Homo sapiens: one gene and its partners. The main gene of each other region encodes a partner of the protein of the gene in region 3 in a complex. Each region holds a gene or a part of one and is shown on either strand. Other genes may lie near its edges. The genes, in order: GSK3B, SIAH1 and AXIN1.

The links.
Region 1: the proteins of AXIN1 (region 3) and GSK3B are in contact, whole or in part, in a crystal structure (PDB 4B7T), measured with the Homo sapiens proteins. Residues at the interface, in NP_003493.1 of Homo sapiens: Glu384, Pro385, Gln386, Phe388, Ala389, Glu391, Leu392, Ile393, Arg395, Leu396, Glu397, Val399, Gln400; in NP_001139628.1 of Homo sapiens: Ile228, Phe229, Val263, Asp264, Leu266, Val267, Ile270, Lys271, Asn287, Tyr288, Phe291, Lys292, Phe293, Pro294, Gln295, Ile296.
Region 2: the proteins of AXIN1 (region 3) and SIAH1 are in contact, whole or in part, in a crystal structure (PDB 5WZZ), measured with the Homo sapiens proteins. Residues at the interface, in NP_003493.1 of Homo sapiens: Pro378, Lys379, Glu380, Val381, Arg382, Val383, Glu384, Pro385, Gln386, Lys387; in NP_003022.3 of Homo sapiens: Cys130, Pro131, Ser154, Thr156, Leu158, Asp162, Ile163, Val164, Phe165, Leu166, Ala167, Thr168, Asp169, Val176, Asp177, Trp178, Val179, Met180, Asn272.

What each region holds. Positions count from the first base shown.
Region 1 is NC_000003.12:120,090,962-120,100,756, forward strand, and holds the start of GSK3B (glycogen synthase kinase-3 beta), read right to left. Parts: upstream 3,487-9,795; 5' UTR 2,474-3,486; coding exon 2,386-2,473; intron 1-2,385. UniProt on the Homo sapiens protein: Constitutively active protein kinase that acts as a negative regulator in the hormonal control of glucose homeostasis, Wnt signaling and regulation of transcription factors and microtubules, by phosphorylating and inactivating glycogen synthase (GYS1 or GYS2), EIF2B, CTNNB1/beta-catenin, APC, AXIN1, DPYSL2/CRMP2, JUN, NFATC1/NFATC, MAPT/TAU and MACF1.
Region 2 is NC_000016.10:48,381,087-48,390,963, forward strand, and holds the start of SIAH1 (E3 ubiquitin-protein ligase SIAH1), read right to left. Parts: upstream 4,328-9,877; 5' UTR 4,118-4,327; intron 3,784-4,117; exon of another isoform or gene 3,690-3,783; intron 1-3,689. UniProt on the Homo sapiens protein: E3 ubiquitin-protein ligase that mediates ubiquitination and subsequent proteasomal degradation of target proteins.
Region 3 is NC_000016.10:348,436-358,071, forward strand, and holds the start of AXIN1 (axin-1), read right to left. Parts: upstream 4,289-9,636; 5' UTR 4,000-4,288; coding exon of another isoform or gene 3,934-3,999; intron 1-3,933. UniProt on the Homo sapiens protein: Component of the beta-catenin destruction complex required for regulating CTNNB1 levels through phosphorylation and ubiquitination, and modulating Wnt-signaling.

The DNA of each region.
Region 1 (9,795 bases), on a different chromosome or scaffold from region 3:
TACACTCCTTCCACCTAGACCTTTCATGCTTTTCTACCAGTTCAAGTTACCACCTCCTTTAACATCAGTCCTAATACACCTTGTCCGCAGGAAGTCTTTCCTCTCCCAACCATCAGTCTCACCCCTTTACTCTTTGCCACTCTGAACAAATGATTCAATTTGTATTTTACAATCTTGCAGTCATCACGCTATTGTTTTAATTTTTTTTTCCCCATAGCCTCCCTCTACAACTAAAGGATAAGCTTTTGAGAGCAAGGACTACAATTTCTTATGTCTGTTTTCAACAGGGGTTCCTTAGAATGCTAGCATCCTAACAAATGCTTAAAGACTCCCCTTTCTTTTAAATGCTTTTAAAGTCAAAGCTGTCAAAAACACATAATTAACACTAAACTCCAACTTTTAAAATTCTAAATTGACCTATATGGTAATCGGAATTAAACATTTTCATCTATATATTTTACAAGAGTTACTCCATCCTTAGTTAGTATCTGTATTACCAAGAATTCAAGAGTCATTTTCAAAGAAAATCCTGAAAAGAAAATGAAAAGTCCCAAAATGTAGCATTATAATCTAGCATTACAGATCTCTGAAATAAAGCTAATAAATCAATTAGCTGAAATAGACTGACTGATTTTCAAACTATATTACCAAGATGTAAAACATACAAACACTCCAGTACCACAAGAGGCTCTTAAGTAGCTATTATAAGATTTGTATCATCATAGCTGAAAATTACCCCGGAATTTTAAAATATTTTTCAAATCACTCCATGAAGTGCTTAGAAAGCACGACCCTTCCCTGAAAGATGCATAATCAGCTTTCCTCTTTACCTACCCGGGCATTCTCTACTTGCAAGCCACAAGAAAAAAAAAAAATTAACTTTCAAAAATTATCTCCCATTCAGCTATTACCTAGACTACCCTGTTTCAGGCTAGTTCCCAAAGCCAACATGAATTGAAATCTTGAGTTCAACTAAAAGTGATCATTTTATGTTGCCTAAGAATATAATCAATTTCACATAACATCATGTTTTGCGTGTGTGTGGGTTCTTAAAATCTCAGTTCTTTAGTTCTCTCAGTTCTTCTAGGCAACAAATTAATTTGTCTTTGCCCTCATGATGCCCCTCTTTCCCACAATAAGGAAACAATATAGATATTTTTGTTAAATTCTGCAAGTATGTTTAAACAAGCTATCATTAAATACCACATGAACTTCTCCATAAATAGAGATACACTGGAACATTAGATACTTAGTATATATTAAACACTTCAAGAGCATACTTTTCAGCACAAACCCAGGACAAGAGTAGTCTATCCACAACCCTGAACACAGCCCAAATATCCCTATTATTTCTAGGACCATAGCCATCTGCAAAAGCCAAAATGGAAAGGACTAAATCCACATTCTTCTAACTAAATCCACAGTTATCTAAATATGATGGAAACTAACGCTAGAGTGTTTTAAATCGTCCTTTTTAAGGAACCCGCCAGAACATTTAACAGGTAATGAATGCAGTAGCACTCCAAAATTGAACTTAAATGTAATGAGCCAGTGACAACATTTAACTTAGTATTTGGCACTATGACAAAACAAATCTCAATCAAAACTTGGACCTATTAATACTTCCAAGTTAACTTTTGATTAAACATAAATTATACGGTGGCAGGTTGGTAATGTCAAAACAGGAAGGTTAAGAGATAACACATCAAACCACTTATCCAATTGAACACAAATGCATACAGAGATGTTACTGCTGCTAGGTATTTATTGGCTCCCACTAGTCCCTTCTAAAGAGAGAAATCAATGGCAGCCTCCAAATGTGAATGGTTACTGAGGAAGTTCATCCACAGATTAAGAACAAATATTATGTGTAGTCATACAAACAAGAAAAAAATGTTGGGAGGGTGGGACATTTAACGTCTCTATTAAGTATATCAAACTATGATAACCCCTGAGACCTAAAATATTCTCTCATTCCAAATTCCAAAAATTCTGCAAATGTGCATAATGGTTTAGTAATCAAATCTTGTCCTTCTCTTTATTCTAAAGGATGGGCAAGTAAACACTGTCATCACTACTTTAACGTGGAAACACTCGAGCACTTGATGAAACTGACTACCAACAGCAAGAAAAGTACAAGAAAGCAGTTTGAAATCGAATCATCCAAATAAATATCATATTATCTCAATTCAAGGTTAATGAGACCGGGGGAGGGGGTATGGGAGGAGTAAAAAGGGAGCTGCTTCATCCTTGACTGAAGATAGGTTTTGCCCTTTTCCATTGCCTGTTTATCAGGAGGTCTAATAATTTCAGATCCTGGTATTTCGAGGTTTCTTATTTTAAGGGCGAGGTGGAAAAGGGGTGTAAAATAAAACCAATACTCACTGCTAACTTTCATGCTGCCAAAAGCTGAAGGCTGCTGCACCGGCTTGCAGCTCTCCGCAAAGGAGGTGGTTCTGGGCCGCCCTGACATGATCACTCTCTTCGCGAATCACCTTTTCCTTCCTTCCTCCTTTTCTTCCTTTTGTCTTTATGTTGGGGTGTTAGGTTAACGATAAATGCAGCATTAAGTTCTCCCACAGAAGAAAAAGAAAAAGACTTCGTCCTCTTGGCTTTTCACTCCTTTTGTATACTATAAAAAACAAAACAAGCGATATATTTCTCCTTCAAGACAGATCGGCACGGATATTTAACATATAGATGATTTAGGACTTGGGAAAAAATACAATTCTTTCCCCTCCCTTTCCTGGGAGGAGAGAAAAGAGAGGGCAAATCCTAAAAAAATATGTATCACGTGAAACGGGGGCAAATACTTGATTGAAAATGAGTACTTCGAATATTATATTTTCCTCGGGGATTTTTTTTCCGAGTCAATGAAGAAGGGAAGCGGCGGAAGGATCACGAGTCTCACGCTTGAAGAGAAAGGGGGATGGGTAGGAGGGAGGGAGAGGGAGGGAGGGGGTGGCTCGGAGATGCGACGGGAAACGCTGCAGCTCCGGCAAGCCGCGGGATCCGGCGGGCTGACGGCAGGGGCCCGGCGAACTAGAGGGCGGCGGAGTCGCGAGTCAGTCAGAGGCGGGCGGTGGCGGTGGCGGCGGCTCCTCTCCTCATTGCGCCAGGAGCAGCTGCAGGCGGCGGCTGGATCCAGCGGCCATGGCGGTGGCGGAGGCAGCTCCCTTCAGACCCCAGGCAGCGGCTCCTCGACTGTTCCCCATTCGCCGGGGACATGGGAACCCGGCAACCGCTTCCGTCCCTCGGGGCCCCCTCCCCCGTCCGCGGCAACAGCTCGGCCGCCCTCCCGCCCCTCGGCTCTGCTCGGTGCCCGCTCAGGAAGTGTCCGCGCTTTGCCCCAGCCCAGAGCCCTGTCAGCGGCTGCGGGGCCGGCTCCTCCTCGCTTCCTTCCTTCCTTTGTCACTTGGCCCGGGCGGCGGCGGCGGCGGCGGCGGCACAAGCCCGCATTCGCCCGGGTCAGGAGCTGCTCTGTGTGAGGAGCGCTGTCTGCGCAGCCGCCTTGCACTTCCCCACTCCTCCTCCCCCCTCCTACTCGTCCTCCACCTCCTTCCTCCCCCACCCAGCCTTACACCGCCCAGCGCCCCGCCGCCCGCGTAACAGGCGTCTGGGAATCGCCGGCCGAGCCCCACGCTCGCCCGCTTCGGCTGGGAGCCGAAGCCCGAACGGAGCCAATCACGGACGTCGTTTGTTTGCGGCTCCTCCCGGAAAAAGCCGATCAGCCTGAGAAACCAATTAGAAAGTGACGCTGGGAAGCCACGCCCAAAGAGCGGAAAATGCCGAAGGTAGCCGAACGGAAAGGGTGAATTCGCCTTGTTCGGTGGCTGGCTGGAGGAGACATTCGACAATGGCAACAGTGGCCAATCAGAGTCGCCGGCCCTTACGAAGAGGCTTGAAGAGTTGAGGACGGTGAAACCCAGAGACGCTGGTGAAACTGCACGGCTGGGCGCCGCCGCCGCTTTGTGATTGGCTGGAAAACTCCGCTGGGAGCGTACCTCCTTCGGTGATTGGTGAAGAGAAGGGGGCTTCCGAGGACAGTCTGGCCAGTCAGGACTTCCCCTCCCTCTCCAAGGTGGGGAGAAGAAAGCGAAGGGAGGGCGTCTATAAAGCGCTGTCTCATTGGCCTGAAGCTTAGGCGCTGGAGTTGGGGCAAAAGGGAGAGGGAGGGAGCCCGAAACTCGCGGCGGCGGCCAATCGGCTCTCACTGCCGTCCAATCGCAAGACCTAGCTGCAGTGTGATTGGCCTTCGGCCCCGGTCCCAGGAGCGGGGAGATGCCTGACTCGGGTCGTGGCTGACGACCCGACGGTTCGCCTGCGGCCGCCTCCAACAACGGTGGAAACCGCACACAGGGACCGCGGGCCCTCGGTGCAGCAAATCGGAAAGTGCTGCGGTCGGCGGCCCTGGGCTCTGAGCGCTCAAGCGAGCAGAGGGGTGGAGGGGCTCTCCCCACCCACAGGAGGCTCTCGGCGGGGCGCAGCCAATTCTGCGCGCCCAAGGCTCCCCTCTGCCGTGGATCGCGTGTGCCGAGTGTTGGCCTCTTCCCCGAAAGGGCCAGACGGACCAAGGGGGCCTTCCCAGCCGGCTGCAAGCTCTCAGACGCTAAAATGGGAACAAAGCTTCCAGAAAGGCAGCGCCTTTGGGCGGCCGCGCCCCGCCCAGCCGCGGGGGCCATTGATACAGAGGCTTGCTGCGCTTGGTGTGCGCGGCCCGGCCGGGCCTCTGGAAACGCCCATGAGAAATGAGCTCATGCTGGATGCGCGCGCTCCTTGGGCGCAACTGCCCAGCGCAAAACGGGCCCCGAAAGCAGGTGAGGGGAAATGCCGTCAGGCCGGATATCCTGAAGCCTCCGAGGAAATGGGGGGGTCAGAGGAGCCCGTGGTAGCTTTGGATCTTTTGGAACTAGGGTGATCTATAAAAGTGCAGCTTGAGAAGATTTCATACATAAGACCAGCGTCCATTGTTCTACCATAGAACCAGTTCCTTTGGTCTGCTTTAGAACAGTGAGGTATGGCTACGTCAAGATAACAGAGAAAGTAGAACAGACAGTTGCCATCCTGATTGTAATCCAGTGGTGCCTGTAATTTCTACCTGCAGAGTCATCTCTTTCTGTTAAGATGCTGTCTCCAGAAAGCACATGTTAAAGGACCTATATTTGATCAGATTACCTGGCTCTTGCTTTGAAACACTGATGAAGGACTTGGGACAGAACAAAGTAAGCTTTGATGGAAGACAGGAAAGGTCTAGATAGTGTTTGCAGATTCAAATGGCTACAGAGGCCAGACAAGTAAAGCAAATGAGTGAGACTGGCCTTGTGTAAGACAATGGGGAATGATAGGGAAAATGGCAAATTGGAATATCCATGCCATAACTAAAAGGAACAGCTGCTCAACTCTAGCAGATTGTTGCCCTCAGGAATGTGGGTCCAGTGTTCTCAGATGTTCAATTTTTTTCCTCCCAAAAGAAACCCCAAAATTGGATTTTTGTGTGAAATCTCTGCATTTTTAAATGTTGGTAACCAAATTTTCAAACCCTGCAGGCCAACCTAAAAACATCCCTTGGCCAATGAGGCATTGGAAAAAGTGTTAATAATTGTTAGGGGCCCGATAGCAGTAGGAGGGTGAAAACAAAATGGTTTGGGACCTTAAATAATTGAAATGTATCTTTATTTATTTATTTATTTTTGAGACGGAGTTTCACTCTTGTTGCCCAGGCTGGAGTGCAGTGGCGCGATCTCGGCTCACCGCAACCTCCGCCTCCCCGATTCAAGTGATTCTCCTGCCTCAGCCTCCCAAGTAGTTGGGATCACAGGCATGTGCCACCATGCCAGCTACTTTTGTATTTTTAGTAGAGACGGGGTTTCTTCATGTTGGTCAGGCTGGTCTCGAACTCCCGACCTCAGGTGATCTGCCTGCCTCAGCCTCACAGAGTGTCAGGATTACAGGCGTAAGCCACCACACCGGGCCGGTTGAAATTTATCTTTAAAATAGTGCACCTTTAATCCTTTTTTTATTTCTGTGTGTATCTTATAATGTGCATATCATGTTAGCTCAAGATCAAGAGTTTATGGACAAGCCAGGAGTGGTGGCTTATGACTGTAATCCCAGCAATTTGGGAGGCCGAGGCAGGTGGATCGCCTGAGGTTAGGAGTTCAAGACTAGCCTGGTCATCATGGTGAAACCCCGTCTCTACTAAAACTTTAAAACTTAGCTGGGCGTGGTGGCGGGCGTCTATAATACCAGTTACTTGGGAGGCTGAGGCAGGATAATTGCTTGAACCCAGGAGGTGGAGGTTGCAGTGAGCTGAGATCGCACCATTGCACTCCAGCCAAGGCAACAAGAGCAAAACTCCGTCTCAAAAAAAAAAAAAAAAAAAAAGTTTATGAACCACTAGTTTAGACAAAGAATAGTTGTACAGTTGTACAGATGGATAAGGAAGGAAAGAACATTCCAGGCAAAGAGAAAAGGTTATGCAATGGCTGAAATGTTTAACAAGGTATTTGGAGACCTTGAGATAGTTTGAAATTATGTAATGTCTAAGATGTGGGCCAAGAGAAAATAAAGGAAAATATCACAGGATAATAGAGGAGTAAAGTAAACTATGCTGTATTAACTCCATATTAGGCAGCCAGTAAAAATAAATACAACCACCAAAAGTAACTCAGAAATATGTTTAGGAAACAATACTAATTGAAAAATATAGAACTTCAGGTTGTATATCTACCATATTTCCAATCTGTAAAATATAAGTACATTTGGATCAAGATTGGAAAGGAAGACAAATTAGAATAACTCGTCAATAACATATTTAAATATAAATGAAAATATTTAAATGTCTTTGCTTAGTATTTTTATAATAAATTTCTATTTTTTTACTTTTATTTATCTTTTAATCTCACTGTTATCCAGGATGGAGTGCAGTAGCACAGTCATAGCTCACTATGGCCTTGAACTTCTGGGCTCAAGCAGTCCTCCCACCTCAGCCTCCTAAGTAGCTGGGATTACAGGTGTAAGCCACTGTACCCCACCTCTGTGTTTGATTTTAAGGGGAATTGGCCCAAAAAATAACATTTATATTATTTCTTCACTATGATTCACATGTCCCTCAGAAGCCTCTAATTACAATGGAATTCTTAAAAAAAATTCACATTTCTCAGCAAAGCTTTCCAACGAAAATTTTTATGATAATCCTTTGTCATATAAGTTAAAATAGTAAAACTAGACAATAGTGAGTAAGTATTATATTTGAGACACCTGCTAGGCATCTGATATAAGGTGGATGAGAGGATCAGTGTCCTTTGGGAGTTTACCCTCTAGGGAAGCAACTACATGAAAAGTTAAATAAATTATAAAAATCACATTTTGAATTGATAAAAGTTATGAGACAGAACATAATTTGGTTTTTATTTATTTTTTTGAGACAGGGTCTCACTTTGTCCTCCAGGCTGGAGTGCTGCGGCCTCAACCTCCCAGGTTCAAGGGATCCTGCTGCCTCAGCCCCCCAAGTAGCTAGGACTACAAGGGTGCACCACCACACCCAGCTAATTTTTGTATTTTTTGTATAAATGGGGTTTCGCCATGTTGCCCAGACTGGTCTCAAACTCCTGGGCTCAAAATCTGCGTGCCATGGCTTCTCAAAACGCTAGGATTACTGGCGTGAGTCACCATGCCTGGCCTATAATTTGTTAATATGGTTGTTACTACAAAGTTTAAAATAAATTGCCCATGCATTCCTATTTATAATAGGTGAGTGGAGGACACTTCAATCTAAAGTGATCTTAAAGGAGGAGTAGTAGGATTTGAAGATGAAGAAAGAAGAGGGGAGGTAAATTACTTTCCATCACTTCAATTTCAACCCATCAGATAAAACCTCTCTTTAGTAAACCTGCATGTGGGTGGAGCTGTAACAGCAATTAAGGACAGTGTGACTCTGTTCTTCTGACTTTGGGAAAACCAGTTTGGCTGGAACAAAAAGCTGATAGAGAAGACTAATGGAAGATAAGGTTGAAAAGGTAGGTTTGAGGGAGCTTTGTTACAGGAAAAAAAAAAAAAAAAAACTGGGCTTTGTCCTGTAGACAGTGGAGAGGTACTTTAGCAGATGTAAGACATTACCATTATAGGAAAGCCTCTGAAGTAACATACACTGTGGTTTTTCCTGTTGCTGAAAATATGCCCAGAGTAACAAGATGTGGCATAGTTGGTTATGTGTCTTATAACCAGTGAGGTGTGCCCAAATGGGAAATTAATGAATGACTACCCAAAAAGAAGAGGGAGAGTGTTTGAAACACTGTCACTGTGAAATAGACTGGTTGTATGAAAAGTTGCATATCAAGCCTTTGGCAAATTATATAAATACTCTGATTTTGACATCTTAAAGGAGTATACTATAGAAAATAAAAGAAAAACACTTGAATCTGTTACAGGAAACGGGTCATGATCCAGACCCCAGGAGAGGGTTCTTGGATCTCACACAAGAAAGAATTCAGGGTGACCCCACAGTGCAAAAGTCAAAGCAAGTATTAAGAAAATGAAGGAATAACAGAATGGCTACTACATAGAGCAGCCCTGAGGGCTGCTGGTTGCCCTTTTTTTTTTTTCCTTTGAGATGGAGTTTTCGTTCTTGTTGCCCAGGCTGGAGTGCAATGGCGTGATCTCGGCTCACCACAACCTCCACCTCCCAGGTTCAAGCAATTCTGCCTCAGCCTCCCGAGTAGCTGAGATTACAGGCATGCGCCACCACGCCCGGCTAATTTTGTGTTTTTAGTAGAGTGAGGGTTTCTCCATGTTGGTCAGGTTGGTCTTGAACTTCCGACCTCAGTTGATCTGCCCGCCTTGGCCTCCCAAAGTACTGGGATTACAGGCATAAGCCACCGCACCTGGCCTGGTTGCCCATTCTTTATGGTCGTTTCTTGATGATATGCTAACCAAGGAGTGGATTAATCATGCCTCCCCTTTTTGGACCACATAGGGTCTAAACTGTCATGGCACATTTGTAAACTGTCATGGCACTGGTGGGAGTGTAGCAGTGAGGACGACCAGAGGTCACTCTCGTCGCCATTTTGGTTTTGGTGGGTTTTGGCCAGCTCCTTTACTGCAACCTGTTTTATCAGCAAGGTCTTTAAGACCTGTATTTTGTGCTGACCTCCTATCTCATCCTGTGACTTAGAATGCCTTAACTGACCATCTGGGAATGCAGCCCAATAGATTTCACCCTCATTTTGCCCGGCTCCTGTTTAAGATGGAGTTGCTCTGGTTCACATGCCTCTAACAAATCCTTTTAGTTTTTCATGCTTGTCACATGTTTACTTCTAAGGGTATAATCATGTGGTTTACTATATTATTACCGATTAGATTATTTTGAACTACTTCAATTTTATTTATTTTACCTCATTTCCATTCACATTTTTTGAAAAGAGCTTTTTTATACAAGAGTGTAAATATTTTCACATTGAATAAATGAATTGAAAACAGTATGTGTTGATTGAATACTTGAAGTATACTTCTTTACAGCAAATTCTAGGAATTCAGCTTTGTTTTATGTGCATTAAAATGTAATAAATATAGGCCTGAGAAATTCTCAGAACAAATATTTTAGGCCCTCAGTAGCTGTAAATCGGGAACGGTCAGATTTCCTTCACATGGAAATGGGACTCACATCTCTCAGAATGGAACAGAAGTCTTTTGGTCTTTAATCTATGTCATGTTGATGGGAAATGTGAAAGCTACAAGAAAATTGGTATTTGGTTTCTTGGATATTGAATATCCTTGGCCAGGGGTGCAGGGAAGTGA
Region 2 (9,877 bases), about 48 Mb from region 3:
AGATACTCTTCACTTTGGGAGGCTAAGACAGGCAGATCACCTGAGGTCAGGAGATCAAGACCAGCCTGGCCGACATGTTGAAACCCTGCCTCTACTAAAAATCCAAAAATTAGCTGGGCGTCATGGCAGGCGCCTGTAATCCCAGCTACTCAGGAGACTGAGGCACGAGAATCACTTGAACCCAGGAGGTGGAAGTTGCAGTGAGCTGAGATTGTGCCACTGTACTCCACCCCAGGGCACAGAGTGAGACTGTCTCAAAAAAACAGCAGCAAAACAACTAAACTCTTACTATCTGATCCAGCAATCACATTCCTTGGCATTTACCCAAAGGAGTTACAAACTCATGGCCACACAAAAACCTGCAAATGGACGTTTACAGCAGCTTTATTCAGAATTGCCAAGACTTCGAAGCCAACCAAGACATCCTTCAGTAGGTGAATGGATAAACCAACTGTGGTACATCTAGACAACAGATTATTATGCAGCCCTAAAGAAATGAATTACCAAGCCATAAAGACGTGGAGGAAACCTAAATGCATATTACTAAGTGAAAGAAGCCAATGTGAAAAGGCTACATATTTTAAAAGCCCAGTTACACATATGACATTCTGGAAAAGGCAAAACTATGGTGACAATAAAAGAAAGAAGATAAGTGGTTGGGGGTGTGGGGACAAATAGGTGGAAGTCAGAGGATTTCTAGGGTGGTGAAAGCATTCATGTATGTCATTATGTATTTGTCTAAACCCATAAAATGTACGCCACTATAATCTTTGGGTAATAATGGTGTGTCAATGTAGGTTCCTCAATTGTAACAAACGTACCACTTTGGCGGGGAATGTTGATAATGGAGGAGGTTACACGTGTAGGGGCAGGGGCTACACGCGAAATCTCTTGTCTCTTCTACTCAAGTTGCTATGAACCTAATGCTGCTCTAAAAAATAAAGTCAATTAAAAAAATCTGCATAAGGGGATATATGGGTCTACATCTCAGCAGGCAAAAAGATTGGAGGCCAGGCACAGCAGCTCACACCTGTAATCTCAGCACTTTGGGAGTCCGAGGTGGGCGGATTACTTGAGCCCAGGAGTTTGTGACCAGCCTAGGCAAGATGGCGAGACCTGACCTGGTCTCTACAAAATAACTTTTTAAAAAATTAGCCCAGTGTGATGGCACATGCTCCTAGTCCCAGCCACTTATGAGGCTAAGGTGGGGGGAACCTTTGAGCCCAGTTGGAGGCCACAATAAGCTATGACATCACCACTGCACTCCAGCCTGGGCAACATAGCAAGACTATCTCAAAAAAAAATAAAAATAAAAATAAAGATCTGAATGTCATTAGAATACGCACAGTAGTAGGTGAGTAAACAAATACCTACTGAGCACTAGGTACTGAGGATATATATTAAAAACACAATTCTTGCCCTTATGCAGCAGATATTCTAGTAACTATAGCCATGGGAACTAAATCATTTAAAGTGCATTAGACATCCTGCTATTTTGAAGAATACTATTAAGGATACTTATTGTAAAAAGGAAAATTTCCTTTTTTGGCGGGGGGATGGAAGGTTCTGGGGATTTCATACAGATTTTGTTGAAAGAGAGGGCTGTACAAAAAATATCTAGATTTTAACATTTCACAAAGCGAATATGGAAATTCCACAAAATTCTGTTAATAAATCTCTTTAAACAAAGAACCTCCAATCTTTAAAAATTTTGTAAATCAACTGCTTAAAAATACAATTTAAGCAGTCACCTAAAACTCTGTAAATTACTAAACTTTGTTACCCTAGTTATGTAAGATCTGTTTTCAAAACACCATACTCACTGAAAATCCTATTTGTTATTTTATGTCATTACTGACATAGCTAGATAATTCCTTCATAACTCCAATTTAACCTAATCATGCTTTTTAATTACAGATATTAAGAAAGAATATTTCTCTACAGCAATTTCGTAAGAACTTCCCGAAGCTTAGAGGGAATAGATTAATATTTAACAGATGTAAAATGCATTAACATTGTTTCTGAATTTGTACTTTGTGGAATACTTATCCTGAAAAGTTATCAGTTTCACATCTATTATACGTATTTCAGTTTAAAATATTAAATGTTAGTAAATTATGTTGGAAAGATGCCAATAACGAAAAAAAAACTGTTTGGCATAAACTTTGGGGAACAAATTCTGGATATAATCGCAACTAACCATCCAAGATTACAGAAATCTGTATCTTTATTTAAATTTTCAGAATGAAACACTACACAACCAATTTGTGTAATCTACTTTGAGTCTCAAGATCTACCAGTCTAAAGTCCTCCTAACAACTAATTAAAATCCTCTCCACCATAATTTGAGCCAACAACTCCCAGATAAAATTACCAGACCATTACATTTGCCACCACACTACATTCTGCTCTTCAGTAACTTCTAAAAGTGATGGTAACACCATAGATACACACTCAAGTATTCACTGTCCCACTTTTCTAAGTTGGTTAACTCAAGTCCTTGAAAGTGAACTGATCAATAAATCTAAACTAGCTAAGAGAAGACCTCATTTTAATCAATTTGATTTTTTTTAATCACAAAGATATAGCCATTCAAATCCCCGGCCACAGCAATTTCCAAAATGCCACCATCTCAGAAAGTCTGTTAATTTATCATACAAATCTCCTTGTCCTTTTTAACAACAAAATGCATTGAAAGAAAAAACCCAGCACTAAAGATCTGTGACCTGATTTCACAAATTCTGGTCTATGCACTTTCATCATACCAACACATCATGCCAAGAAAACCTCGTAAGTTTAGCTATTAAACTACAGTCTTAACAGTAAGCATTTGTTGAGAACTTAGTATGGGGCTGCCACTGCTTTCAGTCCACCTATTGTCATCTCATCAATTCTCAACAGGGCTTGAGGTAGATACTGTCGTTACACCCATTTTGCAGATAAGGAAAGCGAAGCACAGAGAAGTATCTGCCCAAGGTCACAAACCAGTGGAGCAGGATTTGACCCAAAGCAGACAGTCGGACTTCACAGCCCGTGCTCTCAACATCCAACTGCTGAAGAGTTAACAATTTACCCTTGACAGCCGCTATAAGCAAAGGTAAATGCTCAACTGCTAGGAAGGGACAGTCAGAACACCGTCCCATATCCAGTATCCATGTCTCTCTGTTTGTTTATGGCCTCTATGACTTTGGCAAAAGAAGTACACACAATCTGATTTTCCGAACACCCAAGCTGGACTTTTCTGAATGTCCGAGCAAACAAATTATGTATCTTTCCAGGAACGGGCAGACAGCGAAAACGAACCTACGCATCGGAGTGGCCCAGGTTATTCACTTTAAGTTATAAATTTGGGAGAGTTAAGAAAGGACCCCAAACTACCCGGCAAATGAACCCTAGGAAATGCCAGGTTTATAATAAGCTAGAGCTTCCCCGGCACGCCGTTCACGCGCTCTCCTCTCTAACGACATAAACAAGGGAGGAGGCTGCATTCTTCCCACTGCACAATGAAGCCTCCGGCCGAAGCGGCAGGAAGAGCGCAGCCCCGTCCCGGACGGCTCCAGCCGGGGGTCGGGGGCAGAGAGCGGAGGCCGAGGCCCGCCGAGCGGCGCGGTGCGGCCCGGGCCTCCGGGCGCCGCGGGGAGGAGGGGGAGGGAGGGCAGGGCCCCGGCAGCTGCCCGCACTCAGCTGACCTCCGCCATGTTGGCCGCACACCCCGGGACCCTCCACAACAAAGGCCGGCACGAGGGCGCGGGGCGCGCCGGGCGCCACCCCCGGCCGGGCCCGCCTCCCGGGCGCGCGGGGGCCGGGCCGCCGCCGAGGCCCTTCCCCCGCCCTCGGCCCGGCCGCGCGGGGCCGACCCCCGCCGCCACCCCGCCGGGCCCGGGGCTCCAGGGGCGGGGGCGAGCCGGCTTGCGAAGGCTGAAGGCAGGGGAGGGGCGGGGGGCGGCGCTCGACCGGGCGGCCCGACTCCGGCCGAGACAAAGGCGCCGCCGCGCCGACTACTGCCCGCGCCCCGGCCGGGCCGCCCTTCCCGCCCTCCGCCATTACCGGGCCTGGGCGCCCGCCTGTCGGAGAGCCCCTCGCCGCCGGCTCCTCCCTCAGGCCGGGCCCCACTTACCTGTGGGCGGAGAGCGCGCCTCGGACCCCGGTCCTGGCACCAACGCGCTCCGTCGCCAACCCCCGCCACCGCGGGCAGCGCCACCGCCTCTTCCCGGCGCCGAGACCGACGGGACACCCTGGGCCGCCGCCGCCTCTCGAGAGCGCGCCCCGCAACGGCCGCCCCGGCTCCCCCCTGGCCGCCGCCGCCGCCGCCGTTTCGCGCGTCCTCGAGCCCGCCGCGCGCCCCCGCTAAATACCACACACTGCGGCGGCGGCCATGAGGAGGCGCGGCCCCGCGCGCTGGGAGCCTGGGGGGGCGGGGCTTTCGCGGGCGCGCAGGCGCACAGGCGTTGGCGCGGCCGGCGGCGGCCTCCGCGGGCGTAGCTGTGCGGGTCTCCAAAGGCGGCAGTAGGTGCGGGGGCTACTCGGCTACCGTTGCTGCGCCCGTGCACCGCGCATTCAACGGATCCTGGCACGTGGCGCTCTGGCCCGCGAGAAGCTAGCGCTTGCCCGTCGGCTCAGGGCAGCTCCTCCCGCGGCGCTTTGTTCCGGGGCCGCGTGACCCCCCCGGCTCCGGCCGGAGGGGTCGCCCAGCGGGATGCGAGCCCCAGGCTGGCCGCCGCCGCGGCCTTGTGCCCTCCCCCTTGTTTTGTCTGCTGATTTAGCCCAGCGCCTCCACGGATCCTTCCCAACTCCACTCAGTCCCAAAGAAAAAGCGGCTGCCCTGCCCGCCGACCGGGACCCCACCCCTAAAGAGAGTCCCAGCCTCTCCCGAGGTTGAGCCGCTCCTCAGCAACAGCGGGACGAGCTTCAAAAGCTTGTTTCAGCTGAAAAGTGGGTAATGGGGAAGCACGCGTTTTCCTGTGTCCATGCTCATCTGGAAAGTCCCTAATTAGGGACTCTGCATTCCACTTCTTGAAATAATAAAAGGAAAACATCACTTGCAATTCTTTGATGGGTGCTATGAGCAGAAGCAAGCATCTGAGACATTTACAAGCCCTAACTGGAATTCCATGTAAGATCTATTAAAATGGTATTCCGTCCGGACGCGGTGGCTCACGCCTGTAATCCCAGCACTTAGGGAGGCCGAGGCCGATGGATTACCTGAGGTCAGGAGTTCGAGAGTAGCCTGGCCAACATGGTGAAACCCTATCTCTACTAAAAATACAAAAATTAGCCGGGCGTGGTGGTGCACGCCTGTAGTCCCAGCTACTCGGAGGCTGAGGCAGGAGAATCGCTTGAACCCGGGAGGCAGAGGTTGCAGTGAGGCAGAGATCAGGCCATTGCACTCCAGCCTGGACAACAGAGCGAGACTCTGTCTCAAAAAAATAAAAATAAAAATAGAAAAATCCCATACCGGGCACGTATGTACAAATTCCCAGTGTATGATAAAGTTTATATGTGCAAAACACTAGTTTACAGTATTCCTAATTACATGATTTAAACTGCAATTTTACTTTCACATTTTTGGGGAGAAGTTATAGCTCCTCAGTACACGGGAAGGTCAATAGAGTTCGGTTCACTTCAGTTTAGAGGTAAATTTTCCATTTTTACAGACTATGTGCTTGGCATAGCCATGTGGCCTTGACCTGGTCGTGAAGGGCAGAGGAGTTCTGTCCTGGGCGAGGAGCAGCTCTGGGGTGAGATGTGTTTCTCGCCCCCAGAACCCCTGGGCCGCTCTGCAAGCAGTGAAATGGATACGGACTAAGAGAGAACTTGCCAACGTGGCGATTAAAGTTCTAAACACCCGGCTTTGCCAAAGTCAGATTTTGTCCTCCTTATCCCGCATCCCTTCCTCTACCCAACAGCATTTGTCCATCTGAAAATAACAGTCTGTCTCTGGCCCACTGCTGACAGTCGAGGACTTACCTTATAAACTAGTGGATTCTCTTAAACTGCAGGGGTGCCCAGGACACAGTGTCCCCTGAGGATGCCGCACACCAGTCTTGAAGTGCTGGATCGTTGACGTCAGGCACCCAGAAGCAACTTCTGCCTCTGGAATTCTCAAACGTGCTTTTCTTGGCTTAGTTTGTGCCTGCTCTCCTCTAGAAGAGTCCAAGTTACTTCTTACTTTCCCCACTTCCCTTTTATACAAAACAAATTTAATCGGGTTAATTCCATCTCTGAGAATTCCTACCTAGATTTGGGCGGGGCTCAATCTGATTTGGTTAATTCTGGGTGGTAGCTATGGGTGGGACATAAACATCACCATTATAAATTTAATTTACTCCCCCTCTCAAAAAAATGTACCTTCCATTTGAAAGAAAATAGCTCCACTGTGGGGGTAACTAAGCACCTTTTCTGAACAGGGAGTTGACTCTGCTTCCTTGACAGTTTATCCATAGAAAAGCATTTTGTAAACTGTAAAGCCTATCCAAATAATCCTCCAATTGATGGGATTTCAGTAACGGTGACAAATATTTTCAGGCCACATCTGGATAGGGAGCCTTCCTGGTCCCCTCAAATCACATCAAATGGTAATTCCATCTATTGCAATGGAACATAACGCTCTGGTCCTGCATCTGGCCCGTAGTTAAGGTACCAGTGATGTAAATTACTTTCCTCTTATGAATAAAACAGGCACTGGCCAGGCACGGTGGCTCACACCTGTAATCCCAGCACTTTGGGAGGCCAAGGCAAGAGGATCGCTTGAGGCCCAGAAGTTCCAGACCAACCTAAGAACATAGCAAGACCCCGTCCCTATAAAAAGTTTAAAAATTAGCCCGGCAGGGTGGTGTGCGCCTGTAATCTCATCTAATCAGGAGGCCAAAATGAGAGGATTGCTTGAACCTGGGAATTTGAGGCCATAGTGAGCTATGATTGTGCCCCTGCACTCCCATCTGGGTGACAGAGGGACACTCCATCTCTAAAAACATAAAAATAAATGAATAAATAAAACAGGCACTGATGAGAGTATCTTTATTTGGGGGTTTTGCTATGAATTTATATTAAATTGATATTTATTTATTTATTTATTTTGTAATCTCGGCTCACTGCAACCTCCATCTCCTGGGTTCAAGCGATTCTTGTGCCTCAGCCTCTCAGATAATGCTGTCAAAGTTGGCTAAACTAGTTAAGACTGAACAGATGATTTCCAAGTGTCTTCATGTCAATATAGTTATTTTACAATAGACCAGTTCACAAGACCAAACCCATCTATTGAATCACCGATGGGCTGTGTTTGTTTCCAGGCAATCACAGATGTCTCTTGCCCAGGAAACTATAGCTATCTCCTCTTACATTAAACCACTGATACCCATTTGTCATTCAGCTTAGGTGGATAGGTCTGGAAACATATTAGCATTCCCTTCCAAGCCTGGCTCTGCTGGTAGCGAAACAGAATCTTTTTCAGCCTGGAAACTGGAAGGCGGTTCCTCCCTCCCAAATAGACTCCTATAAGCTTTGCAAAGGAAAGCAGGTCCCCAACTTGTCAGACATGCCTACAGCAGAGCAGAAACAATGTTTTCTTTATCAGACACACCTGTTGCCAGTCACTGTCTGAGGTTGGTGAATGTGTTAAACAGTATCCCAAACAAATTTTCCTGGACATGGTGGAGAAGTTAGAGACACAACATGAGCATCCAAGAATGAAACAGGAAGTAGCTGAAGGAAGTTCCCAAAAGCCCAAGTGGTTGGGAAATGAGTTCGCCCATAACTGTAGTTTTCCTTCAATATAATCAAGTTTCTTTAGGAAAAAGGTTACATGCTAGGCATCACATTTTTCAAGAAGTTAGAGCCGGGCACGGTGGCTCACGCCTGTAATCCCAGCACTTTAGGAGGCCAATGCCTGCAGATCACCTGAGGTCAGGATTTGGAGACCAGCCTGGCCAACATGGTGAAACTTCGTCTCTACTAAAACTACAAAAATTAGCCAGGTGTGGTGGTGGATGCCTGTAATCTCAGCTACTCGGGAGGCTGAGGCAGGACAATCACTTGAACCCAGGAGGTGGAGGTTGCAGTGAGCAGAGATCACACCACTGCACTCCAGCCTGGGCAACAGAGCAAGATCCTTGTATCAAAAAAAAAAATTAGAAAATCATTGAGGTTTTTATGTAGCTGGTGGAAGTAGGTGATACTGACAATTAGTTTAAGTAATTGTTGTTCTTGAGTTCATTGGAATGCAGTGATAACTGTCCAGTGCATTAGGTACAACCCCTGCCTCATGCCCAACCCACAGATGCTCATTTCCATGGATCCAAATCTTTTCTTTACACTTGTCAGAATTTAGCCTTTTTCTTTTTTCTTTTTTTTTTTTTTTTCCAAGACGGAGTCTTACTCTGTCACCCAGGTTGGAGTGCACTGGTGAGATCTTGGTCACTGCAACCTCTGCCTCCCAGGCTCAAGCAATCCTCCCACCTCAGCCTCCTGAGTAGCTGGAAACACAGGTGCGTGCCACTGTGCCCAGCTAATTTTTTTGTATTTTTGGTGGAGACAGGGTTTCACCATGTTGCCCAGGCTGGTCTCAAACTCCTGAGCTCAAGCCATCTGCCCATCTCGGCCTCCCCAAGTGCTGGGATTATAGGCGTGAACTACCATGCGCGGCCTTAGCCTTTTTAAAAAATTTAAGTATTTGTTGAACTGCTATGACATGGCAATAAGTAGAATAAATCCCTGGAGGGCAGGGTGCATGTCTGTATTTCCATCTATGCCTAGCACAGTGGCTGACACATAAAGGGCCCTCAACATTTTTGTTGAGCAAATGAAGAAATATTAAACAAGGACCATGCCCTTAACTATCACGGTCTATGGAATCTGTTTCCAGTTTCTCTTTTACATCCTTTCATTCATTGTTAGTAGATATTTGACTTTCTTTCCAAATTATCTTGGAGAAACTAGCATTTAGAAACATTTAGCATTCAAGAAATGCTTAACACACGCACAAGTTCATGGGTTACTTAATTTTTTTTTTTTTTGAGACGGAGTCTCGCTCTGTCACCTAGGCTGGAGTGCAGTGGCGTGATCTCGGCTCACTGCAAGCTCCGCCTCCCGGGTTCACGCCATTCTCCTGCCTCAGTCTCCCGAGGAGCTGGGACTACAGGCGCCCGCCACCACGCCTGGCTAATTTTTTGTATTTTTAGTAGAGATGGGGTTTCACTGTGTTAGCCAGGATGGTCTCGATCTCTTGACCTCGTGATCTGCCCGCCTCTGCCTCCCAAAGTGCTGGGATTACAGGTGTGAACCACCGTGCCAGGCGGGTTACTTAATTTAATACTAACAAATATATGAAGTGAGCACTGCTTTCCCATTTTACAGATGAGGAAATGGAAACTCAGAAAGGATAAAGAACTTTCCCATGGCATGTACTAATAAGTGGAGGTGTGGAAGTTAACATCCAGGTCCGTCTGGCCCCAGAGCCTTTGCTCCTTCCTCATTCATCGTGTCTTACAGCTGAGGAGAAACATGATCTGTGATTCATATTCATCCAGGAGGGCTTACACATGAATCTGCAGGGCCCTCAAGTCCTTTATGAGAATTTGTCAATTCAGGGTTTTCATTTTAATGAATTTTAGAAGGATGAATTAAAGTATATTTTACATTATCTAAACAACTACCTGCAATTCACTATGTTAATGAAAAAATGGCCAGGTGCGGTGGCTCATGCCTGTAATCCCAGCACTTTGGGAGGCTGAGGCAGGTGGATCACCTGAGGTGAGGAGTTCGAGACCAGCCTGGCCAACATGGCGAAACCCCATCTCTACTAAAAATACAAAAATTAGCCAGGTGTGGTGGTGGCAGGCATCTGTAATCCCAGCTACTTGGGAGGCTGAGGCAGGAGAAT
Region 3 (9,636 bases):
GTCCCCCACACCAACTTCCTCACATTGCACACACTTTACCAGCCAACAGCTGCTCACGGCTGGAAGCACGAAGGATCCACAGAGCCAGGCGTGGTGTCACGCACCTGTAGTCCCAGCTACTCAGGAGGCTGAGGCTGGAGGATCCCTTGAGCCCAAGAGTTCAAGACTAACCTGGGCAACATAGTGAGACCCAATCTCTACCAAAAAACAGTTCTTAATTAGCCGGGTATGGTAGCGTATGCCTGTAGTCTCAGCTACTTGGAAGACTGAGGCAAGAGGATCACTTGACCCAGGAGTTCAAGGCTGCAGTGAGCTATAATCGCACCCCACTGCACTCCAGCCTGGGCAACAGAGCAAGATCCTGTCTCTAAAAAAAAAATAGGCCGGGCACAGTGGCTCACACCTGTAATCCCAGCACTTTGGGAAGCCAAGGCGGGCGGATCACGAGGTCAAGAGATCGAGACCATCCTGGCTAACACGGTGAAACCCCATCTCTACTAAAAATACAAAAAATTAGCCAGGCATGGTGGTGGGCACCTGCAGTCCCAGCTACTCGGGAGACTGACGTGGGAGAATGGCATGAACCCGGGAGGCAGAGCTTGCAGTGAGCCGACACCGCGCCGGCCACTGCACTCCAGCTTGGGCGACAGAGTGAGACTCTGTCTCAAAAAAATAAAATAAAATAAAATAAAATAAAATTAGTAAATAAATAAGAAGCACCCATAGATGGAGGATGGTTTGCAACTATGTGCCCCCAATGACATTTCAGCAGCTAAGGACTTTTTGTGAACGCTGCTGGGTAGTATGTCATCTTGGCCTCAGCAGGAACACACAGCTTCTAAAGGTCAAGGCCCAGTGAGCTGTGACATCCTGCTGCTCACAGACCACTTCAGCGGCAGTCACTCCGTGAGCCACATCAGCATGGAGGGAGCACCCTGGGCGTGGGCACCTCCACACTAGCTCACGGTCATCTGTCTGGGACGCCATCACAGGAAAGAAGGCCTGCACCCTGACCACCTGAGCCTTACCACTATAGATGTACTACCATTCACTAGCTTGAAGAACCAAGTCACCGGAGAGTGGAAAGTGATTAATCAGACAGTGCTCAGAAGGGAGGCTAACCACAAGTCACCATCATGCTCTCATAAGGGACTTAAGTCTTCTGTGTTAATTATTGGTAGTAGCGGGACCCACAGCACCCAGCACAAGGTCCTGCAACTAACGGGCACCAGTAAGTCATTCACTGATGTAAAAAAGAAAAGACATTTGTCACAGACGCCAAACACTGGCTCTCTACAGGGGCTGAACTACTGTACCACAGAAAACAGCAGCAAATTCTTCCAAAACTAATGGGTTTTGTTGTTTTGTTTTTTGTTATTTTGAGACAGGGTCTCGCTCTGTCGCCTAGGCTGGACTGCAGTGGGGCGATCTCAGCTCACTGCAGCCTCAGCTTCCCAGGCTCAAGCAATTCTCCAGCCTCAGCCTCTCAAGTGGCGGGGACTACAGGCACGAGTCATCAACGCCCGGCTAATTACTGTATTTTGGGTTTCACCACGTTGGCCAGGCTGGTCTCAAACTCCTGAGCTCAAAGCAATCCACCCGCCTCGGCCTCCCAAAGTGTTGGGATTACAGGCCACTTTGCCTGGCCCCAAAACTAATGTTTTAATTCATGTGTGAACCAAATTTTCAGAGCCCAGAAGAAAATTTTCTTACAATCATGTGTATTTTTGGCTGTCAACTGACAGAAGACTTTTTGGTGTCCCTGGAAGCACATGAACCCCTCTACAAGCTACTGATGTTGTTGAAACATGTCCCAATTCCTGAAATCTCTGGGTTCCCACAGGGAAGCACACCAAGCATTTAGTGTACACACAAGTACACACCACACATAAAGCAGTCACGTTTACTCAGTTCAGTATCAAATGCCTGCAAGCACTGAATCTGGCCCACAGCCTGTAGCTACCATCAATAAAGTGAGTCCATAAAACGGGCGGGATGCCTACAAGTATGATACTGTATTTAAAATTCCCTTTCGTCACCGCTTAGGCATATGCTCCAGGCATCATGGCAGCAAACTCAATGCTACCTACGTGTGTAGGTATTTATTTTACCCAAACGTAACTTTTGACATTTTGATTTACATGGAGGAGGCAAGTAACACAACACGACTCTGACATCTTCCCAGCTGTCCATTGATTTAACTCTTGAAGGTTCAGGGCTACTATTTCACATGTAATTTATTCCCCCATCACTGAAATTCTCAATGACCAATGTAATCCGAAAAAGTCTGCTTAGCTTTTCTGAAACTAGAAACCCAAGACAAGTCAACACCAGCTGAAAATCAAACAAAAACAGTCTGTTTTTCATGCTTTCCCATCCTTGTCCCTGAATGGAGATCTTAAAACTGAAACCAAAGCCAGGTGAGGTGGCTCACGCCTGTAATCCCAGCACTTTGGGAGGCCGAGGTGGGCGGATCACCTGAGGTCGGGAGTTCAAGACCATCCTGACCCACATACAGAAACCCCATCTCTACTAAAAATACAAAATTAGTCAGGCTTGGTGGCGCATGCCTATAATCCCAGCTACTTGGGAAGGCTGAGGCAGGAGAATCGCTTGAACCTGGGAGGCGGAGGATGCGGTGAGCGGAGATCACGCCATTGGACTCCAGCCTGGGCAACAAGAGCAAAACTCTGTCTCAAAAAAAAAAAAAAACTGAAACCGAGCTATTGCTGAGTATCTCGGGTAGCCGGTTTAGACTGTGTTTTCTCCAAAATAGGGCCTGTGGATCCAAGTAAGCTCGAGATTCTTCCTGAAGAAGCAGAGAACAGAAGTGTGAGCAAAAACAAGGGGCTGACATGCACATAAGAACCCTTTATAAATTATCTTAGAAGGGGCCAGGCGCGGTGGCTCACGCCTGTAATCCCAACACTTTGGTAGGCCAAAGTGGGCAGATCACCTGAGGTCAGGAGTTCCAGGCCAGCCTGGTCAACATGGTGAAACCCTGTCTCTACTAAAAATACAAAAATTAGCCGGATGTGGTGGCGCATGCCTGTTATCCCAGCTACTCAGGCGGCTGAGGCAGGAAAACTGCTTGAACCCGGGAGGCGGAGGTTGCAGTGAGCCAAGATAGCGCCACTGCACTCCAGCCTGGGCTACAGTGCGAGACTCCGTCTCAAAAAAAAAAAATTATCTTAGAGGACGGTGGTCACCCCTGTAGTCCCAACACCTTGGAAGGCTGAGGCAGGTGGATCGCTTGAGGCCAAGAATTCAACACCTGCTGGGCAATATAGTGACACCCCATCTCTACAAAAAATATATATATATATATCTTATAGATGGGCTGAGAAAAATCCCCAGAGAACTGACATGTTTTTCTCTACTTTCTTCAATGCCAAGCTGAAAGTTTCACTGCTCGGGCAGTGCAGCTCTGGTTTCACGGGGGCTAAATTCCAAAGTGCGGGGCGGGGGTAGAATCTAAGAACCACACCCAAGAGAAAGACCAGTGTTTGGGCAGCAAGGCATCAACCTGGAGGGTACGGACGCCGGAGCACGCGGCTACTCAGGCCGAACCCCGACCCGGACCCGGCACGCGGCCTCGGCGAGGGCGGGCGGGAGTGTCCTCCTCCGGGACAGCCGGACTCCCGCCGACTTCTGGGCGGCGGGGAGGGCTCCAGGCCCGGCTCTCCCGGGCCCCCGCACGCGATGCGCGGCCCCTGCAGCTGCTCCGTGCCCCGAGACGCGCCCGAGGCCTCGGACCTCCAAGCGGCCACCGCGCCGCCAGTCCCGCTGCCCAGGGACACCCCGGCCCCAGCTCCCCGCGCGCCCACCCCCTCGGTCCCACGCGCGTCAGCCACCCGCGCCCCCCGCCGCTTCCGGGTCCCGCCCGCCCGGCCTACCGCGGCCTAGCCCGCCCCGGAGCCCGGCCCTACTCACCCGCGCGCGGTGGTGGCGGGACCCCGGGCCCGGCTCCCGGAGCGGCGCGGCGCGGTCCGGGCCCATGCGCTCAGCGGCAGCGCGGCGGGCGGGACCCGGCGGGGGCGCGGCCCGGGGCGGCCCCCATCTCGGCGGCTGCGGCTCGGCGGCCCGGAGGCGGACGCGGGGCAGGCCGCGGGGGCGCCGCAGGGGCCCAGCCGCCAGCTCCCACCCGCCCGCTCCGCGTGGACGCGGCTCCGGGCCGACTCCGGCCGGCTCTGGCGGCGGCAGCGGCCACGATCGCCTCCCGAGCCAGAGCCCGAGCCAGAGCGCCGAAGCCCAGGCCCGAGCGCCCCCGCCGGCGGCGTCCGGAAGTGCGGGGGCGGGGCCGGGGCGCGGGGACGAGGTGAGAGCGCGGGGCGGGGCCTCAACACGGGGCGGGGCCGGCAGCGCGGGGACGAGGTAAAGGGTGTGGGGCGGGGCTTCAGGCGCGGGGCGGGGCTGAAAGCGCGAGGATAAAGTGAGGAGCGTGGGGCGGGGCCGACAGCGAGGGGACAGGTGAGGAGCGCGGGGCGGGGCCGGGGCGTGGGCGGGGCCGGAAGCGAGAAGACGAGGTGAAGAGCTCGGGGCGGGGCCTCGGGCGTGGGGCGGGGACCAGGGAGTAAGGCGGGGCCCGCCTCGAGCAGAAGAGGTAAAGAGCGTGGGGCGGGGCCTCCGGCGCGGGGCGGGGCCGGAAGCGAGAAGACGAGTTGAGAAACATGGGCCGGGGTCTCTGCATGGCCGGGAGAGGGCGTGGTCAGTGCCTGCCGGGGGCGGGGCGTGCCGGGGGCGCGGTCGCGCCGTCTTCCCGAGGGGCGGTGCGGAAGCGGAGCCCGGGAGGCTTTGGCTTCCCAGAGAGCGGAGTGGGAGAGGCGGCGTTGCAGGTCCTTGGAATGGCCGCGGCCGTGGGGAGCACTGGGCGGACTGCGCGCCCCGAAGGGCGCACGTGGGGCGCAGCCCTTTTCTGCCGCCAGTACATCGGAGGGCAGTCAGGGGGCTGCAGGCCTCGGGGCTCCCTGCCCAGCCGGCCCTGGAGAGGAGGCCCTCGTGGGGACCGCCACGGCCTGCCCGCCGCCGTGAGGGAAGCAGGCTCCCAGGAGTGGGGTGGTCGGCAGGCAGGGATGGCCAGGGCCCTTGGAAGGTGGGGTGGGCTCCACCCTCCTGAGTCCCAAGGCAGCCTGGACTCACAGCGCCAGGGAACACGTTAGGCCCCAATATATGGTGGCTCTCACCCGGACAGGAGCCACAACCTCCAAAGAGCCCACCGGCTAGGACCCTCTGCCTTGATTTCTCCCAGGCACCATCTAGTATCAGAGAAGGGTTCTCCTTCCCTCCGCTGCCCAGGCCAGCCCGAGAGCAAGGCCATTGGAGTGTCCAGACCCCTGCACCCCTTCCCCTGGGCTGTCTCCACAGCGGCCCTGCCAAGGGGTCCAGTCCGATCCTGCCACCCTGGCTGCCCAGATCCGTGTCACTTGCCCTGCAGGCCACAGAGCATGAGGTCACAGCCCCAGGCACCCCACGGCAGAGAGGCACGGGCCCCCAGCAGCAGCCCCAGCACCAGCTCTGGCCAGCCCAACCCTGTCAGAACCAACCCTCTGCTCTCCACCCAGGCCTCAGCCAACCATCAGGCCCTCCCCAAGGAGGAGGATGTGAGTACCAGGATCTGCCGCCTCCCACAACAGCCCAGGGCCCTGTCCTTCCCAGAGCACTATTGGGCCTGGCACCTCCCGGGATGCTCCAGGCAGCCCCCTGGGGTCAGCTATACCCCCGTTTCACAGAGGAGACAGCTGCAGTTCAGGCCACACAGGACCAGCTCGCCTCCTGTTGGGTGAGGGCTCCCCACCTCGTCCGCCCCACACCTGAGACAACAGCCCTCATCTATCTGCCCTCTGCTTTAGGCCTCCCAGGGCTCCCTGCTGCCCACAGCCCTTCAGGGCCCTTCCTAAGGGCGCCTCCCCCACACCTTCCCCTAGATGCGTCTGGCCACTTGCCCGCCTCCGTGCTTCCGTGTCCATCATGTCCATACCTGCCAGCTCCCTCCAGGCACCTCTCACGTCACCCCCATGTCTTTCCCTGGGCTGTGTCACCCTGGATGCCCAGCCTCACCCTTCAGAGCTCCCAGGCAAGCACAGAAGTCCCAGCTCCAGGCTCCCCGAGCTTCCAGCCTACCCCCAACCAGATGCCCACAGGTGGGACTGCATGGGGAACCATGTGTGGAAGCCTCCCAGCCCTCGCCCCTGCCAGCACTCAGCATGGTGTCTGATGCCAGCATCGCTGTGTGGGAAAGGGGGTAGCATGGGACAAGGGCCACTAGGCTGTCCCCAGCCTGCCAAGGGCCCAGGCCCACCTCCCAGGGCCATCACTGTGCTCAGAGCAGGTGGGCAGGGGCTGGGGATATGAACGAAGCTGCACTGTTAGACCAACACCTGGCCCCGCTGGGTCCTGGCCGCAGGCACCCTGCCAGGTCCCACAGTGCTGGACACTGGGGCCTCCCCGCAAGCCCCCTAGCCCATTCAGCCTCAGAACCTTAGAGGAGACAGAGTGGGTGGCCTCCATGGTAAAGCACAGTTTCCAGGGATGAGGGAGTCCTGGGTGGCCAGACAGACAGCAGGACCTCAGACACTGGCCCCTGGGCTGCCCCCCGACTCCCAACAAGGTCCCCAATGCTTGCCTTGGTTCTGCAGAGCTGCTGCTGTGTCCGGGCCAGGCTCTCGGGGCTGTGTCCACGTCCATCCTCCTCTTGGCCCTCGGTGGCAGGTGTCCCCAGGCCCTGGGACCAGAACAAGGCCCTTGGGCCTCCAGCTCCTCGGGGCCCCTGCCCTGCAGGGACAGGAAGGGGGTCAGAAAGCCTGGAGGAAATGCAGCAGCCCTTCTAAAGTAGGTTGTGGTGTGGGTGTGGAGGGGAGATTCTCTGAGCCTAGTGGGGGTAGGAGGAGACCAGAGGCAGGCCAGGCAGAAGAGAGGTAGAGGAAGGCCCTGAGGAGGGGCAGGGAGGCGCGCGGGGGCCTGTGGTGTGCAGGGTGAGGTTCAGCCACCTCCCTTCCTCACAGAGCTCCTTGAAGAGGCAAACGCCCTTTGCTTCGAGCGTGAGTTTGCCACGAAGGCTTTTATTTGATTGACCGTAGATGACATTTAATCAGGTTTTGTTTCTAGGCACCAAATGAGACACTTAAGAGCAGACATGGAATTATTTTCTTCAATGTAGACATAAAAGGTATGTTTTTTTGTTTGTTGGTTTTTGGAGACGGAGTTTCATTCTGTTGCCCAGGCTGGAGCCCAGTGGCGTGATTTTGGCTCACTGCAGCCTCCACCTACCATGCTCAAGTGATCTTCCCACCTCAGCCTCCCGAGTAACTGGGATTACAGGCGTGTGCCACCACACCCCACTAATTGTTTGTATTTTTGCTAGAGACAGGGTTTCATCATGTTGCCCAGGCCGGTCTCTAACTCCTGAGCTCAAGGGATCCACCTGCGTTGGCCTCCCGAAGTGCTGGGATTACGGGCCCAAGCCACCATGCCCAGCCTAAAAGGAATACCTTGAAAATAAAGTGGCTGGCCCGGAGCGGTGGCTCACGCCTGTAATCCCAGCACTTTGGGAGGCCGATGCAGGTGGATCACGAAGTAAGGAGTTCGAGACCAGCCTGACCAACATGGTGAAACCCCATCTCTACTAAAAATAGAAAAATTAGCCAGGCGTGGTGGCGCACACCTGTAGTCCCAGCTACTCAGGAGGCTGAGGCAGGATAATTGCTTGAACCTGGGAGGCAGAGGTTGCAGTGAGCTGAGATCGCCCCATTGCACTCCAGCCTGGGTGACAGAGCGAGACTCTGTCTCAAAAAAATAAAAATAAAGAAAAGGCCAGGCACGGTGGCTCACACCCGTAGTCCTAGCAGTTCGGGAGGCCAAGGCCAGAGGATCACTTAAGCTTAGGAGTTCAAGACCAGTCTGGGCAACATAGTGAGACCTTGTCTCTACTAAACAATTTTTAAAAACTAGCTGGGCGTGGTGTTGCGCACCTATGGTCTCAGCTACTCGGGAGCGCGAGGCAGGTGGATCACTTGAACCCAGCGGTTGGAGGCTTTAGTGAGCTGTGATTGAGCCACTACACGTCAGCCTGGGCAACAGAGTAAGACCGTGTCTCCAAGAAATAAAAATTAAGAAAATAATAAAGTGAGTTTTGATGCCTTAAGTGTGTTTATCCATTTAACTGAGGAAGACCACTTATAAAAAATGACCCAAAGGAAACCCTGGAAGACACCCCAAGGACATTAGCTGGGGAGTGTTTGCCGCTGTACGATGTGTGATGGAGACAGCCAGCTGCAGAGATGGACACTGTGCAGCCACCGACCCTGCATCAGTGTAAGGGGAGCGGGGGAAGAGGACGGACGGTTCTGATCCAGGGTTCTGGAGGCTGAGGGAAGCCTTGGGTTCAGCCTCTTCCAGTCTGCCCCTTCTCTGCCCCCTCCGCTCAGTCCATAGGTGTGAGAGGTGGGAGTGGGCAGGCAGGGGAGGCCGCTGGAGGGGAGGGAGGCCCCTCGAGGGGGAGGGAGGCCTTGGACCATCCCGTTCAGGCGAGGGAGGACTGCACTTTCCATCGCAGGCAGAGCCCCCACCACCCTCCACCGCCTTCCAGGCTGTAAGGCGAGCCCCAGCTCTCATCCCTGAGCCTTCTTTTTCCATCAGTTCTGAGCCCACAGGAGAGGCCAGATGCTGCCTGTGCCCCCATCCCAAGCCCGACAGAGAACAAGGAGCTACAACACCCCAGAGACATGCCGCCAGGCCACGCACACAGGGCACCACTTTTCCTGAAAATAGAAAATGTGGGCGGGGCGCAGTGGCTCACACCTGTAATCCCAGCACTTTGGGAGGCTGAGGCGGGAGGATCACTTGAAGTCAGCGGTTTAAGATTAGCCTGGGCAACAATGCAAGACCCTTTCCCTATAGAAGCATTGTTTTTAATTAGCCAGGCATGGTGGCGTGCACCTGTGGTCCCAGGTACACGGAGACAAGAGGATGGCTTGAGCCCGAGTGGTCAAGGCTGCAGTGAGCTGAGATGGTGCCACTCCACTCCAGTCTGGGTGAGAGAAAGACCTGACACTGGGCCAGGCGTGGTGGCTCACGCCTGTAATCCCAGCACTTTGGGAGGTCAAGGCAGGCAGATCGCCTGAGGCTGGGAGTTCGAGACCAGCCTGACCAACATGGAGAAACCCCATCTCTACTAAAAATACAAAATTAGCCAGGCGTGGTGGCGCATGCCCGTAATCCCAGCTACTTGGGACACTGAGGCAGGAGAATCGCTTGAACCCGGGAGGCGGACGTTGCAGTGAGCTGAGATCGCGCCACAGCACTCCAGCCTGGGCGACAGAGCGAGACTCTATCTCAAAAAAAAAAAAAGGGCAAGAAGACTCAAAACAGTCCACGTGTTATTAGTGGAAGCAGAAGCATGAAGTTCCATTTTCTTCTTTGCATGTTCAGGAATGTCTACAGGGATGTAACAGTTATGGTCCCGTGGAACGGTCTGTGTAAGTTAACCCACTGAAGGAGACGGGCATCACGGCTGAGGCCCTGAGGGGTGGAACTGACCACTGGGCAGTGTGTGTCCAGCAGGGTGATGGTCACGGCTGATGGCAGCCACATCGCCCCACGGTGGCCTGGGGCCTGGCATGGAGGTTCTGCCACCTTCCT